Regions from separate parts of the Homo sapiens genome. Here region 1 is linked to region 2. Evidence: fine-mapped expression QTL. A gene starts in region 2. The other region holds a variant in brackets. All regions are shown on one strand. Distances are from middle to middle.

The links. PIP is the estimated chance that this variant, and not a neighbour inherited with it, causes the effect. A credible set is the group of variants that fine-mapping cannot tell apart.
Region 1: its variant is the best candidate, but not a certain one, in a credible set for the expression of EZH2 in monocytes after interferon gamma (Fairfax 2014, PIP 0.51).

What each region holds. Positions count from the first base shown.
Region 1 is chr7:148,739,284-148,744,664 of GRCh38, forward strand. The region is part of intron 2 of CUL1 (cullin 1); the gene reads left to right. Among named protein-coding and RNA genes, the nearest start is that of CUL1, 43 kb to the left of the region's middle. The variant TTTAC/T (reference allele first, on the strand shown) is at 2,161.
Region 2 is chr7:148,881,723-148,887,103 of GRCh38, forward strand. EZH2 (enhancer of zeste 2 polycomb repressive complex 2 subunit) reads right to left here and starts at 2,569. Exons shown (of 20, transcript NM_004456.5): 1 at 2,442-2,569. LOC124901767 (a long non-coding RNA gene) reads left to right here and starts at 3,467. Exons shown (of 2, transcript XR_007060579.1): 1 at 3,467-3,761; 2 at 4,635-5,381. RefSeq lists silencers at 1,733-2,322, 2,483-2,852, 2,973-3,202 and an enhancer at 1,823-2,514.

The sequences.
Region 1 (5,381 bases), 140 kb before region 2:
ACATTTCTCCATATAGTTCAGTTGATTTAAAGCTGAGATAAAAATACTGTGAAGCTAAGACTGTGTGTCATCAGAGCTATATAAGATCTGCTTTCACTCCTGCCTCTGCTGACTCAGCCTGGATTCAAAGCACAGTTGATCCTGTTCTTTAGGCGAAGGTGCCCTAAACCGGGGGCACCTCTCGGGCTGCCATGTAAACTTCGTGTCCGTTGAGCACCTTTTTATATGCTCGTTGACCATTCGTATGTCATCTTTTGTAAAGTGTCCAAGTCTTTCGCCTCCTGTTTTTTCCATTTTGGGGATATTTTGCTTTTTGTTAGTTTTAGTTCTTTATATGTCAAGGATACCAGTGTTTTGTCAGATATATTTTGCTAATATTTTCTTCAAGTCTGAGGCTTGCTAATCATTTTCTTAATGGTGTCTTTGGGTGAGCAAATGTTTACTTTGGGGAAACCTAATTTATTGGTTTTATTTTATTTTTGCAGTTATTGCCTCTGTGACATAAGAAACCTTTGCCTAGATCTCAAATATATTTTGTGTTTTCCTCATAAGACTTTATGGTTTGGGCATTTACTTTTAGACCTGTGATCCACCTGGAGTTAACTTTTGTATATGGTGTACAGTAAGGCTTAAGGTTAAATTTCCCCTGTGTGGATATCCAATTATTCCAGTGTCATTTGTTGAAAAAAACTTTTCCTCAATGGACTGTCAACTTCTTGTCAATGTCTACCCCAAAAGTTGATTGATTGGAATGGTATTGAATTTTTTTAATGGCTTTTTTTTTTTTTGAGACAGTTTTGCTGTTTTTGCCCAGGCCGGAGTGCAATGGCGCAACCTTGGCTTACTGCAATCTCCACCTCGCAGGTTCAAGTGATTCTCCTGCCTCAGCCTCCTGAGTAGCTGGGATTACAGACGCACGCCACCACGCCTAGCTAATTTTTTTGTATTTTTAACAGAGACAGGATTTCACCATGTTGGCCAGGCTGGTCTTGAACTCCTGACCTCCAGTAATCCACCTACCTCGGCCTCCCATAGAGCTGGGATTACAGGTGTGAGCCATTGTGCCCAGCCTTAATGGCTCTGAGATCTAATTCACATAGCATACAATGCACTCATTTAAAGTGTACGTTTCAATAGTTTCTGGTATATTCACAGATAATGTTCAACTGTCACATTCAATTTTAGAAGATTTTCATCATCTCAAAAAGAAACCCTGTGCCCTTTAGTTGTCACTTCCTTCTTACCCCTACCTTCTACTAATGTACTTTGTCTCTATAAATTCACCTATTCTGAACATTTTGTATACATGTAACTATATGATATGTGGTGTTATGGACTTAATTGTGCCTCTCCTCCATTCATATCTTGAAGCCCTAACCCCCAGTATATTTGGATGGTATTTGGAGGTAAGGCTATTTGGGGGAATAATTAAGGTTAAATAAAATCGTGAGGGTGGGGCCTTACCCTGATAGGATTGGTGTCCTTATAAGAAGAGGAAGAGACACCAGAGAGCTCTCTCTCCACATACACAGAGGAAAGGCCATGTGAGGACACAGTGAGAAGGTGGCCGTCTGCAACCCTGGAAGAGAGCCCTCACCAGAAACCAACCCTGACAGTACCTTGAGCTCGGACCTCTAGTCTCCAGAACTGTGAGAAAATAAATTCCTGTTGTTTAAGCCGTCTTGTCTGGTATTTTGTTATGGCAGCCTAAGCCGACTAATACATGTGGTCTTTTGTGACTGGCTTTCTTCCATTTAGTATAATGTTTTCTAACTTCATCCATGTTGTAGCATATGTCAGTACTTCATTTTTATGGTAAAATAAGATTCCATTCTGTGGATATACCACATTTTGTTTATCCATTCATCAGGTGATGGACAGTTGGGTTATTTCCAACTTTTTACTATTACGAATAGTGCTGCTGTAAATATTTGTGTACAGGTTTCTATGTAGACATATGTTTTCATTTTTCTTAGATGCCTACAAGTGTTATTTCTGGGTCAGATGGTAACTGTGTGTTTAACCATTTGCAGAACTGCCAAATTATTTTCCAAAGTGGCTGCATTATATTACTTTCCCACCAGCAGTGTATGAGGGTTCCAGTTTCTCCACATTCTGGCCAACACTTGTTGTGTTGTGTTGTATTTATTTATTTAGTTA[TTTAC/T]TTACTTATTTTGAGACAGAGTCTTGCTGTAATTCAGGATGGAGTGCGTGGCGAGATCTCAGCTCACTGCAACCTCCTCCTCTTAGGTTCAAGCGATTCTCCTGCCTCAGCCTCCCGAGTAGCTGGAACCGCAGGTGTGCATCACCATGCCCAGCTAATTTTGGTGTTTGTAGTAGAGACAGGGTTTCATCACGTTGGCCAGGCTGGTCTCGAGCTCCTGGCCTCAAGTGATTCTCCTGCCTCAGCCTCCCGAGTAGCTGGAACCGCAGGTGCGCATCACCATGCCCAGCTAATTTTGGTGTTTGTAGTAGAGACAGGGTTTCATCACGTTGGCCAGGCTGGTCTCGAGCTCCTGGCCTCAAGTGATTCTCCTGCCTCAGCCCCCCAAAGTGCTGGGATTGCGGGCATGAGCCACCACATCCGGCTCAACACTTGTTATTTTCTGACTTTTTGATTCTAGCCATCCTAGTGGGAATGAAGTAGTATCTCATTGTGGTTTTGATGTTCACCCTTATTGAAAATCAGGTCCACAGATTCATGAGTTTATTACTGTCATTTTGTAGTAAGTTTAGAAATTGTGATGTTTGAGTCCTCCAATGTTGTTCTTTTTGTAGATTATTTTGGCTCTTTTGAGTCTCTTGAAATTCTATATGTATTTTGGAATCAGCTTGTTAACTTCCTACAATGAAGCCAACTGGGATTCTGATAGGGATTACATTGAATCTTTGGATCAATTTGGGGAGTATATTAGTCTGTTCTCATACAGCTAATAAAGATATACCCGAGACTGGGTAATTTATGAAGGAAAGAGGTTTAACGGACTCAGAGTTCCACGTGGCTGGGGAGGCCTCACAATCATGGTAGAAGGCAAAGGAGAAGCAAAGTCATGTCTTACATGGCAGTAGGCAAGAGAGCTTATGCAGGGAAACTCCCATTTATAAAACCATCAGATTCTATGAGACTTATTCACTACCACGAGAACACTATCGGGGAAACTGCTTTCATGGTTTGGTTATCTCCACCTGACCTTGCCCTTGACAGATGGGGATTATTACAGTTCAAGGTGCTATTTGGGTGGGGACACAGCCAAACCATGTCAGGGAGTATTGCCATTTTAATTAATAATTCTTAAATCTTTCTACCTTTTCTGGTTTTTTTTTTTTTTTTTTGAGTTGGAGTCTCACTCACTCTGTTGCCCAGGCTGGAGTGCAGTGCATGTTCTTGGCTCACTGCAGTCTCTGCCTCCCGGGTTCAAGCGATTCTCCTGCCTCAGCCTCCTGAGTAGCTGGAATTACAGACATGCACCACCACGCCCAGCTAATTTTTGTATTTTTAGTAGAGACTGGGTGTTTGACCATGTTGGCCAGGCTAGTCTCAAACTCCTGACCTCAAGTGATCCACCTCCCTCAGCCTCCCAAAGTGCTGGGATTACAGGCATCAGCCATCATGCCCAACTCTTTCTACCTTTTCTGATATAAGTATTTGAAAGTATAAATTTCCTTTTAAGGATTTTTAGCCTTATTCTGCAAATTTTGATATGTTGTATCTTCATTACCATTTAATTCAAAACACTTTATTTGACCTTTGAATTATATAGGAAGATATTGTTTAGAAATATTGGATTTTCCCGGGTAGCTTATTGTTACTAATTCCTAATTATAATTCCATTTTGATCAGAGAACACACTGTATAATTTCCGTCCTTTTAAATGTATTGAAACGTGTTCAGTGGCCCAGAAAATAGCCTATCTTGGTGAATGTGCCATGTACTCTTGAAAAGAATGTGGGTTCTGCAGCTGTTGGCTGTAGATGGTGATGTGCTGGAGCTGGATCAGATCAGCTTGCGGGAGATGATTGTGCCCATCTCTCTCCCATCTCCCTGTGTGATATTGTCCTGTTGGTAGCTTGCATCTGCCATGGTGGGAACCTTATACAATAGACATCTATGGAGGCTACAAATCAGGGCTTTTCTTTTTTTCTTTTCTCCCTGCTCAGAGAGCCAATTTACCAGTATACCACTGGGTGTAGAATGTTACAACTGCCCATACAGATCATCCAAGTTGTGATTGATATTTTTCCTATGGTCTAGTTGCTGAGAGGAATGTTGAATCTTATCCTATGATTGTGAAATTGTCTCCTTTACCCTTTAATTCTGTCAAATTTTCATATATTTTAAGCCAGGTGTGGTGGCTCACATCTGTAATCCCAGCACATTGGGAGGCCAAGGCGGGCAGATCGCCGGAGGCCAAGGCGGGCAGATCGCCTGATGCCAGGAGTTCAAGACCAGCCTGGCCAACGTGATGAAACCCTGTCTCTACTAAAAATACAAAAATTAGCCGGTCATGGTGGTGGGCGCCTGTAGTTACTCTGGAGGCTGAGGCAGGAGAATCGCTTGAACCTGGGAGGTGGAGGTTTCAGTGAGCCGAGATGGCACCACTGCACTCCAGCCTAGGTGACAGAGCAAGACTCCATCTCAAAAAACAAATTTTTTTTCATATATTTTGAAACTCTGTTGTTAGACAAAAATACATTTGCGAATATGTCTTTTAAGTACATTTATTATGAAATGTGTCCCTTTTTATCCCTGGTAGTAATTTGTTGCCTGATAGTTATTAGCTTCTTTAACCTCTTTCTATGCTTAATGTTTGCATGATAATCTTTTTCCATCCATTTGCTTTCAACTTATGTGTATTTTTATATTTAAATTGTGTCCCTCATGTCAACATATAGAGCGGTCTTGCTGCTTTGCCCCTTCTGACCATCTCTGTCTTTTAATTGTAGTTTTAGCCCATTAACATTTGTTATAATTATTAATAGATTAATTTTAGGCCTACCATTTTGTTTTTTTCTCCCCTTAAAAAGTTTCTTTGTTCTTGCTTTCCACCCTTCTTTAGGATTATTTGAAATTTTTTTATAGTTCCTTTTTAATATATTTGTTGGTTGTTTCTGCAGTGTGTGTGTGTGTGTGTGTGTGTGTGTGTGTGTGTGTGTGAAAGAGAAGAAGGAATAAAGAGATTGCTCTAAGGATATAATACACATTTTTCTTAACATTCCACTTAGAGTTAAGATTGTATGACATCATAGAAAATGTAGAGGAATTGTGGTTGTATAGTTCCATTTACTACTCGTATCGCTCTCCTTTATATTACCTCTACATATGTTTTTAAACCCACAAGACGATATTATAAATTTTTGTTTTAAACCATCCTTTGTATTTT
Region 2 (5,381 bases):
CAGGAGTTCGAGACCAGCCTGGCCAACATGGTGAAACCCTGTCTCTGCTAAAAATACAAAAATTAGCCGGGTGTCGTGGTGCGTGCCTGTAGTTCCAGCTACTCGGGAGGCTGAGGCAGGGGAATTCCTTAAACCCGGGAGGCAGAGATTGTAGTGAGCCCAGATCCAGCCACTGCACTCCAGCCTGGACGACAGAGCAAGGCTCTGTCTCAAAAAAAAAAAAACATATACACACACACACACGCGCGCGCACACACACACACACACACACACACACATATGTATCCTAAAATATCCGAATTTCTGCCAAAAATCTGCATAACTACCTTATCTCATAATGGACAAGATTATTAATAGGATTTTTTAAATACAGAATTAATAGTAACTAATATAAACGTTACTTTTTTGTTATAATGTCTCAACACTTAGACCAGCACCTGGAATGCCCGTACAGTGGTGTCAACACTCTCCAAAATATATGTAATAAATTTATATTGCATTTATTTGTCTCCATTTTTATGAAACCTTAAGTTAGCAGATGCACATTAGATCTTTATCATATAGGACAGTGCAACCAGAAGAACGCCTATGTTTTTCTAACTTGTTTTCTTGGAATATATTCACTTTCCACAAAAACGAGAATTTAAGATGCAGTGTTCCTGTTTCCGGGAAACCTTAAATATTACATCACCCAACACACCTCCGAAAAGAGAGAACAAGACGCTTTATATCTATGACTAGAATCCTACCTATTCCTAACTTTAGAGACCATGAATAGAAAATTAAAATATATCTTAAATACTTGTTTTCCTGCAAATAAAATTACAAATAAACAAGTTAGGATTACACACTTGTACAGTATTCCTAAACATGAATTAGTTGCTAATGCTTATGAAGAGTAATAGAAAATAAACTCCAAAACCCCTAAAAGTATAAACTACATTCAATTGTGACAGCATTCGTGTTTTTCAAAGGTTTATTAAATGCTGTTTTATGATGACATCAAAACGCCACAAAATTAAACTAATAATAACTTGCTTGAACCCTAAAAAGCAAGCCTTTAAGTAAATAGCAAAGACACATTTTTATTTCCAAATGAATTTAAATGTTACAGATCCTGTGTGATAAAGGAAGTTTAACTGTGGACAGCACACGTTAAATTTCTTAGGCAACAAACATTTCTCCATGCAGTCTTTTCTGAATCACCAAAGCTATTGTTCACAGAAAACGAGACCAATTAATAAGAAACTGCTAACCGTATAATCTAAACACACATTTGTCATAGCCATTCTATTTTGATCACCTACTTCTACCACCTCATCCTCATTCAACCCGTCGGGATTTGGGGAATAATCTGGCTGAATGACAGTTGATTTCGTTAGCACCTGTCGCCATTCTCAGATGTATCACACAAGTTGGCCAAAACAGCTTGTAATGTTTAAGGATTACGATTCTTTAGAAAGTGGCAACTCACTAGGCGTTCACCAAGTTTTCCAAAAGATCGTGCTTCTCGATTCCTCCCGCTTTCAAAAAGTAACCCTGTGGCACAGATTTTTGGGGGGAACGGAAGGGGATGTACACAATGAAGTGGGAATTCAACAGGACGCCCTCCAGAAACACAATCAATAGAGAGCAGAGCAGCTCGACTCTTCCCTCAAACTTAGCATAAAGCCAGACCAGGCGGCGAGGGCAGCCCGCGACCGCCGGAGCTCAGGGGGATTTCGGGGTGCGTCGTGGGGAAACGTCAGAGGCGAAGCTACTCCGAGTTCCCCGCCGCGAACGTCGTCCCGCGAGCGCCGCGGCCCCAGCCCGGGGTCGGCGCGCCCGGGACCGGGGGCGTGCGCGAGGCGAGGGCCGAGCCCTGCCCACCCCGGCAGCGGCCCGCGCCTCCCCACGCCCCTCTCCCGCCCGCCGGCGGGCCCGGGTGTCATGCCCCTTCCCCTCGCGCCGAGCCCTCCGGAGACACAGTCCGTCCTTTGTCTGAGTGCGGACTCGGCGGCTGGGTCCCACCAACTTGTGTCTGTCCCGTCCCACCCGGGCGCTCCCGCCGCGGCCGCGCCACACAAAGGAGACTTGAGGCTCGAGCTGCCACCCTGGACCGGGCACCGGAACGCCCCGACCCCGGCCCCGGCGCCCCGGCCAGGACAAGCACCGGGAAAGGAGCCCCCCACACGCCCCCCGCCCCGCAGCTCCAGGGGTGTGCGCTGCCTCACTCGCAGGGTCCCGCGGGCCAGCCCGAAGCTCACAGCTCCTTCCGGGGAGGGGGGCTCTCCCCTCACCCTCCACCCCCCGCACGCCTACAAACGCGGCGCCCCGGTGAGCCCCGCTCGGCGATACCCGGGACCGGCACAGCAGTGGCGGGGAGGTCCTGGCGCCGCCGCCGCCGCCCGGTTCGCACTCCCGGAGCCCCGCCGGCCGGGCCGCCCGCAGCGGCGCGTTACCTTCGTCCCGCGCGCCGACTCGCGTTGTTCCCGCGCGTCGCCCCCGCGCGCCGCCGCCGCCGCCGCCGGGGCTCCACTGCCTTCTGAGTCCCACCGGGTGTCGGACGCGACCGGACCGAGCGCCAAACGCGGCAGCCCAATCGCCATCGCTTTTATTTGGCCCCCCCAGCCCAATCAAGCGCCGCCCCGATTGGCGGGACGCGAGGCGGGCGCCCGTCCAATCACAGGGCCCGCCGGGCTCGGAGGCGCCGAGCCAGCCCCACGCAGAGTGCGCTCAGGGCTCGTGGGCGGGCGGGCACTGGCAGCGCGTGCGCGCGCGGGCGGCGGCGGGGTTCGCTGTAAGGGACGCCACTGGCCGTGTGGAAGCGCCGCCGCCGTCTCTTTGTTCTTTCGCTGAACACACGGCGCCTCTCAGGAAGGCGGTGTGCAGGCACGCGGGGACCGGGAGACATCGCGGGGGCCCGGAGCCCGCCGCGGACGGGAGGCGGGGAGGATAGGTGGCGGGAACCGGCCGAAGGGCGGGACGAAGCGCCGGCGGCTCTTGGCGGGAACCGGCGCCGCAGAGTTCCCGGGCGGGGGAGGGGCGGGGCGGGTGCTGGAAGCCAAGTTTGAACCAGTTCAAAACTCGGGGGTGGTAACGGTTTTAACCGCCGCGCTCGTTTCCCCGCGCGCGGAGCCGAGGCCCGGGCTGGCCGCTCCTAGTGGTGCCCGGGGAGGGGAGGGCGCGGGCCCCGGAGGTCGGCTCAGCTGTGGCGCCGCGTTTGCCGGGAGACGCTCGCCCGGCCCGCGCGCTGCCGCCGGACCCGTTACTACTTTTTTTTTTTTCTCCTGAGACGGAGTTTCGCTCTGGTTGTCCAGGCTGGAGTGCAATGGCGCGATCTCGACTCACCGCAACCTCCGCCTTCCGGGTTCAAGCGATTCTCATGCCTCAGCCTCCCGAGTAGCTGGATTACAGGCATGCGCCACCACGCCCGGCTAATTTTCTATTTTTAGTAGAGACGGGTCTTGGTCAGGCTGGTCTCGAACTCCCGACTTCTGGTGATCCGCCCGCCTCGGCCTCCCAAAGTGCTGGGATTACAGGCGTGAGCCACCGCCGCCGACCCGGGCCCTGTTTGATTATGTCTGCTGCTGCCTTGGCCGTTTTTTCCCCCACCGCTGGACTTTGGCTGGCCGAGCTTGCAGTGCTTATCGCCCTAGAAACCTGTGAAAGGGCGACATTGCTGCCATTTCAGACCCTTCCACTGTTCGTAGTTCTAAGCACGTGTCAGTGTTAAAAATCCTTTATCAAGATGAGCACTGTTCACTTGCCGCCTCTGCAAAGTGTGAGGATATTTGCAAGGCGCGGTGGCTCACGCCTGTAATCCCAGCACTTTGGGAGGCCGAGGCGGGCGGATCATAAGGTCAGGAGATCGAGACCATCCTGGCTAATAACGGTGAAACCCCGTCTCTACTAAAAATACAAAAAATTAGCCGGGCGTGGTGGCGGGCGCCTGTAGTCCCAGCTACTCGGGAGGCTGAGGCAGGAGAATGGCGTGAACCCGGGAGGCGGAGCTTGCAGTGAGCCGAGATCACGCCACTGCACTCCAGCCTGGGCGACAGAGCGAGACTCCATCTCAAAAAAAAAAAAAAAATTGATCTTGGTTATGGGGGGTCAAGCTACCTCAACCCAGAGGAATTAGAGGGATTCTGCTTAGGATACAGTCTCTCCTATTGCTTCATGTGGCAATGCAGTTAAGAGTATTCCGAATTTATTTTTACTAGGATGTATCTATGGGGTAAAATACCATTGTCATGTAAACTGAGATTCCATATTGAGAGTTCATACTGGAAACTGAAAAAAGGTCACCTATGAACTGTTGGGGTAAAAATCTGAAGAAATATTTTTAATGAATTTAATAACTAGCCAGAATTTTTTTTTTTTTTTTTTTTTTAAGAAACGGAGTCTCACACTGTCGCCCAGGCTGGAGTGCAGTGGCACCATCTCAGCTCACTGCAAGCCCCGCCTCCCGGGTTCACACCATTCTCCTGCCTCAGCCTCCCGAGTAGCTGGGGACCACAGGTGCCTGCCACCACACCCGACTAATTTTTTGTGTTTTTAGTAGAGACGGGGTTTCACCGTGTTAGCCAGGATGGTCTCGATCTCCTGACTTTGTGATCCGCCCGTCTCGGCCTCCCAAAGTGCTGGGATTACAGGCGTGAGCCACTGCGCTGGGCCAGAATTTTTCATCAGATGATTTAGCCCATAATTTTCCCGCCTTTCCTAAATCACCATCCCATTCCTCACATATATTCTGAATCACTCCAATGTTGGAAAGTATATATAAAGGGAAGCTAAAAGATAAGGAGAAACAAGCAATCATGTGCCCAGATAAAAGCAAAATTGTCTTGTGAATCAGTGATAACACTGCAAAAAGTAAATAGGTTATGCAGCTGAGATGTGACTGTAAAATAACGTAACGAATTATAGCTGCCATTACTTCCAGTCACGAATACATTCATTCTCCAAGATAAAATGCATCTGTCTAGGCCACCAATTTACAATTTTTTAAAACCAGCAATTTAAACCTCAGAAATTAACTACTTATCCCTAAGTTGCTTATCAAATTACTGAACTTATCAGTCCTGTAATACTAAATATTAAAACAAGGCATTTTTAAGAGGAAGATCAACGAAATTAGAGACTACCATAAAGCAAATCAAAGCAGTATATAACTCTGCAACATGGTGTGAAATGTCATGTAAATTGCTAGACGTTTAGAATCAAGGAATGGATGGATCAAGATATTCCAGGCCAGACTTAGTGGTTCACACCTGTAACCCCAGTACTTTCAGAAGTCGAGGTGGGAAGCTCCGAGACCAGCCTGGGCAACATAGCAAGACCCTATCTCTACAAGAAATTTAAAAAATAACTGAGTGTGGTGGCACAGAAGTACCTATGGT